Homo sapiens: one gene and its partner. The protein of the gene in region 1 interacts with the protein of each later gene in a pairwise test. Each region holds a gene or a part of one and is shown in the gene's direction. Other genes may lie near its edges.

The links.
Region 2: the proteins of NCR1 (region 1) and TMEM229B interact in binary tests that used the Homo sapiens proteins (3 or more experiments, as listed by UniProt).

Annotation. Positions count from the first base shown.
Region 1 is NC_000019.10:54,904,635-54,908,386, forward strand, and holds the start of NCR1 (natural cytotoxicity triggering receptor 1 isoform a precursor), read left to right. Parts: upstream 1-1,513; 5' UTR 1,514-1,553; coding exon 1,554-1,587; intron 1,588-1,664; coding exon 1,665-1,700; intron 1,701-1,888; coding exon 1,889-2,173; intron 2,174-3,752.
Region 2 is NC_000014.9:67,471,620-67,475,271, reverse strand, and holds part of TMEM229B (transmembrane protein 229B), read left to right. Parts: intron 1-1,330; 5' UTR 1,331-1,334; coding exon of another isoform or gene 1,335-1,348; coding exon 1,349-1,852; 3' UTR 1,853-3,652.

The DNA of each region.
Region 1 (3,752 bases):
CAATTCTCCTGCCTCAGCCTCCCGAGTAGTTGGGACTACAGGCATGTGCCACCACACCCGGCTAATTTTGAATTTTTAGTAGAGACAGGGTTTCTGCATGTTGGTCAGGCTGGTCTCGAACTCCCGACCTAAGGTGATCCACCTGCCTCAGCCTCCCAAAGTGCTGGGATGACAGGCCTGAGCCACCGTGTCTGGCCAGTATTTGGTTTTCTGTTTCTGTGTTAACTCGCTTAGGATAATGGCCTCTAGCTGCATCCATGTTGCTGCAAAGGACATAATCTTGTGATTTTTCAAGGCTGTATAGCGTTCTGTGGTGTATACATATCACATTGTCTTTATCCAGTCCACCTCTGATGGGACCTGGGTGGATTCCATGTCTTCACTATTGTGAATCCTGCTGCAATGAACATACAAGTGCATGTGTCTTTTTGGTAGAATGATTTATTTTCCTTTGGCTATATACCCAGCGATGGGATTGCTGGGCTGAATGGTAACTCTGTTTGTAGTTCTCTGAAATATCTCCAAACCAAACTGCTTTCCACAGTGGCTGAACTAATTTACACCCACCAACAGTGTATAAGTGTCCCCTTTGCTCCACAATCTCACCAGCATCTGTTAATTTCTGGCTTTTCAGTAATGGCCATTCTGACTGGTGTGAGATGGTATTGTTGAGGGATAATTTAGGAATCAGAGAGACCGAGGGGTTGAGGAGGATTTATTATTATTATTATTATTTAGGTGCACCGGCCCCAGTCAGATTAACATCCAAAAAGACTGAGGCTCGAACAGAGAGTCCGGTTACCTTTTAAGCATTTTGTGGGGTTGGGGGAGATCTGTGCAGGGGGAAGCATATTACAGAAGCAAGAAACAAAGGCAGTTATTCAATTGAGACATGCATCACATTATTCCTTACTTTTCAAGAAAAATATGTTTTACGACTTGAGGTTATCCTGTCTAGTGACCTTGCAGCCGCACGGCAAGAGAAACAGGGTCTTCACAATGCCTGGGAAAGGGAGAGATAAGGCTCACTAGCCACAGACAGAAAAACAGGCAGTTCATGTTTAAAGGACTCCACCTCTTTCTCTTCCTCGGGGGGAACTGGGTTTTCTTAAATACAACTGAGTTTTTGTTTACACATTCTGTAATTTCTTTTAATTCCTGTTCCAGTATCTCACTGTGAAACTCCCTATGTTTTTATACGATTCTCAGGGGGTTTCCTCTGGGCATGATTGGGCACAACTTCCCACAGTCAGCTCTGGGTACGACCTCCACATTGCAGAATTGAGAAGTTGACCCAGAAATGCATTTTGGGCTGAGCAGACAATTGTCAGAGTTGCTGGCTAGACCACAGATGTGTCAGAGGGACCACGGCCTTTCTGTAAGCTCATGGTCAGAGGCGGAGGGGAGTTGTGAACGTTCTGATGAAAGCAGTCAACGTGAAAGCGCTCTGGTGATGGGCGCTGGTGCTCACCCACCACTTCCTGTGTATCTATCTCCCTGGCCCGCCCGGCTCAGTCCCCACTGCTCAGCACTAGGCCGGCAGAATCTGAGCGATGTCTTCCACACTCCCTGCCCTGCTCTGCGTCGGTGAGTTCTGGCGTGGAAGGGGAATGGGATCACGGTGTGCCTGGGAGGCAACAGGTCTCATTACTCCCGTCTTCCAGGGCTGTGTCTGAGTCAGAGGATCAGCGCCCAGCAGCGTGAGTCCTTCCTTCAAAGCCCAGGGTCACTCTTCCGGATTCAGGCCAAGCTCCTTCCACCCAAGCACGGCTGGGGTGAGGGGACAGGGTGCTGGCTTCCCAGGAGAGCTTGGGGCCAGCAGCTGGGTGGAGCCTAAGGTTGGGGGGAGGGGGCTCCGCTGGAACTCCAGCCTCTGATTCCCTTCCAGAGACTCTCCCAAAACCGTTCATCTGGGCCGAGCCCCATTTCATGGTTCCAAAGGAAAAGCAAGTGACCATCTGTTGCCAGGGAAATTATGGGGCTGTTGAATACCAGCTGCACTTTGAAGGAAGCCTTTTTGCCGTGGACAGACCAAAACCCCCTGAGCGGATTAACAAAGTCCAATTCTACATCCCGGACATGAACTCCCGCATGGCAGGGCAATACAGCTGCATCTATCGGGTTGGGGAGCTCTGGTCAGAGCCCAGCAACTTGCTGGATCTGGTGGTAACAGGTAACTGTCCGGTTCTCTAACTGGAGAGTGATCTCAGTCTGCATCCGGGATGCAGCATCATCTATGAACTCTTCCAAGCCCCACTCAGACACTGCTTGTCTCGGTAGGAGGCTGGAAGGAGGGGTGATCCCCATCACAATCCTTGCCTACAAGGGGTTGTCTGCAGACCGTGTCTCTACGTCCTAGGAGCAGATGTGTCCTCAGTCAGTTTCTCCATGACACAGATTCTGAGATAGATATTTGTATGCAGGGGTATGACTGAGGAATGTCCTCAAAAACAATGCCTGTGGGCCAGGCGCAGTGGCTTACACTTTGCTTCCCTCACCCATCACAGGTGGTGGGTTTTTTTTTTTTTTATCTGTTTTGAGACGGAGTTTCGCTCTTGTCACCCAGGCTGGAGTGCAGTGGTGCAATCTCCAGTCACTGCAACCTCCACCTCCTGGGTTCAAGTGATTCTCCAGCCTCAGCTTCCCAAGTAGCTGGGATCACAGGCACCCACCACTACGCCACATTTTGTATTTTTAGTAGAGATGGGGTTTCACCATGTTGGCCAGGGTGGTGTCGAACTCCTGACCTCAGATGATCCGCCCGCCTCACCCTCCCAAAGTGCTGGGATTACAGGTGTGAGCCATCACACCCAGCCAGGTGGTGGTTTTCTAAAAAAAAAAAAAAATTAGCTTTTTTTTTTTTTTAACAATATGGTTGTTTATTATTATTATCAAGTATTATACATAGTTACATATACATACATAATTGTATGTGCTATACAATTAGGTTTGTTTATACCAGCAACACCAAAAACACATGAGCAATACTTTGTGCTAGGAAGGCTATGATGTCATCAGGCAATAGGAATTTTTCAGTTTCATTATAATCTTATGGGACCACCATCATATATGTGGTACATTGTTGGCCAAAATGTCATTATGCAGCTCACAACAGTATTTCATGTCCATTCAAATATCTTCTTTTGTGAAATGTCTATTTAAATCTTTTGCCTATTTTTAAATTGGGTTGCTTATATTTTGATTGATTAGGAAAAGTTATTTCTATATTCTGTGTCATATACTTGTGTTGAAATATATATATTTTTTGTCTGTGCCTTTTCATTTGCTCAGGGTCTTTGGACCTTGTTTGGAGGTTCTGGCAGGGGAACACAGCTACTCATTTATTCTTTTTTTTTTAATTTTTTTAGTATTTATTGATCATTCTTGGGTGTTTCTCGGAGAGGGGGATTTGGCAGGGTCATAGGACAATAGTGGAGAGAAGGTCAGCAGATAAACATGTGAACAAAGGTCTCTGGCTTTCCTAGGCAGAGGTCCCTGCGGCCTTCCGCAGTGTTTGTGTCCCTGGGTACTTGAGATTAGGGAGTGGTGATGACTCTTAAGGAGCATGCTGCCTTCAAGCATCTGTTTAACAAAGCACATCTTGCACCGCCCTTAATCCATTTAACCCTGAGTGGACACAGCACATGTTTCAGAGAGCACGGGGTTGGGGGTAAGGTCATAGATTAACAGCATCCCAAAGCAGAAGAATTTGTCTTAGTACAGAACAAAATGGAGTCTCCTATGTCTACTTC
Region 2 (3,652 bases), on another chromosome or scaffold:
AAATATGGTGATATATACAATGGAATATGATTCCGCCTTTAAAAGGAAGGAAATTCTGGCTGGGCACAGTGGCTCACGCCTGTAATCCTAGCACTTTGGGAGGCCAAGGCGGGCGGATCACCTGAGCTCAGGGGCTTGTGACCAGCTTGGGCAACATGGTGAAACCTCGTCTCTACTAAAATTCAAAAATTAGCCGGGCATGATGGTGTGTGCCTGTAGTCCCAGCTACTCAGGAGTCTGAGACAGGAGAATCGCTTGAACCCAGGAGGCGGAGGTTGCAGTGAGCCAAGATTGCGCCACTGCACTCCAGCCTGGACGACAGAGCGAGACTCCGTCACAAAAAAAAAAAAAAAAAAAGAAGGAAATTCTGACATGTGCTGCAACATGGATGAACCTTAAAGACATTAGGCTAAGTGAAAGCTAAGCCAGTTATGCTAAGCCAGTCACAAAAGGACAGTGTTTGTATGATTCCACTTATATGAGGCACCCAGAGTAGTCAAATTCATAGAGACAGAAAATAGAATAGTGGTTGCCAGGGGCTGAGGGTATGGGGAATGGGAGTTTGTATTTAATGGATACAAAGTTTCTGTTTGGGACAATGAAAAAGTTCTGGAGATGGTTGGTGGTGACAGTTGCACAACAATGTGAATGTACTTAAGACCACTGAATTGTACACTTACACATGGTTAAAAAATGGCATGCACACACACAAGGACAAATGTGATGAGTCACTTACATCTCAGAAATATGAGTGACATGGAACTGTTTGAGAAGAAGTGGAGGAAGAAATGGGGTCCCCAGTGGATAGGCCTGCTGAGAAATCAGCAAGTAGTCTAGAAATGGGGCTGATTGGTGCAGCAGGCCAGCCGACTCTTCAACTGACCACAGATAATCCAAAAAAGCTCTAGGGAGTACAGACACCTCCCTCTAAGTAGCATTTGGGTAGAGTTGCAGAGAAGTCAGTGGGGTGGGTGGGTTATTCTGTTCTTTGCTCTGTTTTTTTTTTGTTTTGTTTTTTTGGAGACAGAGTCTCACTCTGTCTCCCAGGCTGGAGTGCAGTGGCGCAATCTTGGCTCACTCCAACCTCTGCCTTGCGGGTTCAAGCGATTCTTCTGCCTCAGCTTCCCAAGTAGCTGGGATTACAGGAGCGGGCCACCACGCCAGGCTAATTTTTGTATTTTTAGTAGAGACGGGGTTTCACCATGATGGCCAGGCTGGTTTGGAACTCCTGACCTCAAGTGATCCGCCGCCTCGGCCTCCCAAAGCGCAGGGATTATAGGCGTGAGCCACCGCGCCCGGCCCTCACCTGTCTCTCTTGCGCCCCCCGCAGCCAGCCCCAGTCGGCGCCATGGCGTCTGCCGAGCCCCTGACGGCGCTGTCCCGCTGGTACCTGTATGCCATCCACGGCTACTTCTGCGAGGTGATGTTCACAGCGGCCTGGGAGTTCGTGGTGAACTTGAACTGGAAGTTCCCTGGGGTCACGAGCGTGTGGGCCCTCTTCATCTACGGCACCTCCATCCTCATCGTGGAGCGCATGTACCTGCGGCTGCGCGGCCGCTGCCCGCTGCTCCTGCGCTGCCTCATCTACACGCTCTGGACCTACCTGTGGGAGTTCACCACCGGCTTCATCCTGCGCCAGTTCAACGCCTGCCCCTGGGACTACTCCCAGTTCGACTTTGACTTCATGGGCCTCATCACCCTGGAGTACGCCGTGCCCTGGTTCTGCGGGGCCCTCATCATGGAGCAGTTCATCATCCGCAACACCCTCCGCCTCCGCTTCGACAAGGACGCTGAGCCCGGGGAGCCCAGCGGCGCCCTAGCCCTGGCCAACGGCCATGTCAAGACTGACTGAGCAGGAAGCGGGTGGGGGGCCTGGGGATCTCTCATGGAACTCATGGACAAAGAGACCAAGCTGGTGAGGTTGCCCCATCCATGCAGCAAAAGCCCTGCTCCGGCCAAGCCTCAGCCCTATAGGGCACACAGAGCCCCCTAACGTCCGCGGGGGCCGGTGTTGGGGGGCCGTGGTCAGGTGTTGGGGGATGGGGTGTGGAGGCAGCAGAGGGACATTGGGAAGGGTCCATGGATCGCGGCCCAGTTCAGGGGTTGGTACCAGGAGGCCTGTGGCTGAGCAGCGATGGACTATGTAGTTGACTTTGGAAGCAGCAGGCCCTGTCCTGGCCAAGGGACAATGAGAATGGGGCCGCAGGTGGGAGGCAAGGCCTGACCTCCCTCCCTCCGATCTGGATTTAGTTGAGCTTTGGCTGGTTCCATTAGGCAATATTCAGGTGCTTGCTTGCAACCAATACCTCCCCAGGGGCCTGCTGAGCTGCAGCCGAGGAGAGACTGGGCAGCCAGGAGGCTGCGTGGCAGCAACGCTGGTCTGCAAGGGCTGGGAGACCCTCCCTTGGCTCCTCTCCCCTCCCCCAGGGCCCTGCGCTGCTCCCTTGGCCTTCTGGGGCCCCCGTGGTGCTGGATTCCCACCAACCTTGGGCTTTTGGAGGTTTCAATCCCCGTGTGTTCGGTGGCGTTTCCCCCTTTTCTGTCTTGTTTTCAAAGCCTTTACCACTAGCGGCTCTTTATCCACGTCGGTCGCCACACCTGCCCCACCCCAGCTCCCTAGCCAGCACAGGAGCTGCCGGAGATGAAGCCCTGAGACACCCCCAACCCTCACCCCCTTGCAGCCCTTCCCTCCACTGTTCCGGCTGGCCTGATGCCTGGGGAGTTCCTGAGTTACACCTCCCTACCCCCGGTCTAGTGGGCTGTGGCAGTGCTCCCTTCTCAGTGGCTCAGCTGAGAACAAATGATGCCCTCCAATGCACAGGCAGGCTGGGTTAGGCCCTGTGGATCCACAGTGGGGACCTAGAGGCAAGTCAGTTTGGTGGGGAAAAGCCAGAGTTCTAGGTCATCTATTCCCTGCCTGGTTTATTTTCAAGCCAAAACTGAGCAGTCTAGCTTTCTATGGGATGGAGAAGCCAGGTATCCAGCATTGGAGACTGATGGAGAATGAGAGGAAGAAAGAGAGGAGGACCTTGCAGCTGTGGAAGGCTCCTTGGAGCCTCCTTTGTGGGAGGGTATCAGTTCTGGTTCTGCCAGAGCCTCAGCCCTGGTAGCAGAACCTCAGGGCTGCCCCTCTCCCCAAACTCCTCCCAGCAAGGCTGACCCTTTGAGCTCACTCCTTAAACAGTATTAACCCTGCCACACTCATGGGCATTGGCACCTTGGTTCCCCTGCCCCACTTTGTCCTGTGACAGGTCCATTGCTGGCAGTGGACAGGTGAAATACTCACTCCAGCCTACTTCCGGCTCTGACTCTCACTCCTCAAGGGGAAGGGTCCGTTAGAAAGTGGCCCACCCCATGGTACATGGTCTCTTCTTGACCACACTAGGACTCTTAGGTAGAAATTAGCCTTCCCCTTTTTATGGATCATTACAAAGTGACGGTATCACCTGTGGAGAGAATGTCCTCTTCCCTGCTGGCTGCCCTGCCCATACTGTGCAGGGTGTGGTGGGGTGCAGGGTGTGGTGGGGTGGGCCACAGTTGTGTCCTAGGTCTGGAGAAAAGCTTGCAGACTCTGCCTTTGGCAGGATTTTCTGCAGTTAGCCCCGTCCAGAGCAGAACGAAGGGTATTTCCTAGCCTATTTCCTGGGCAGGC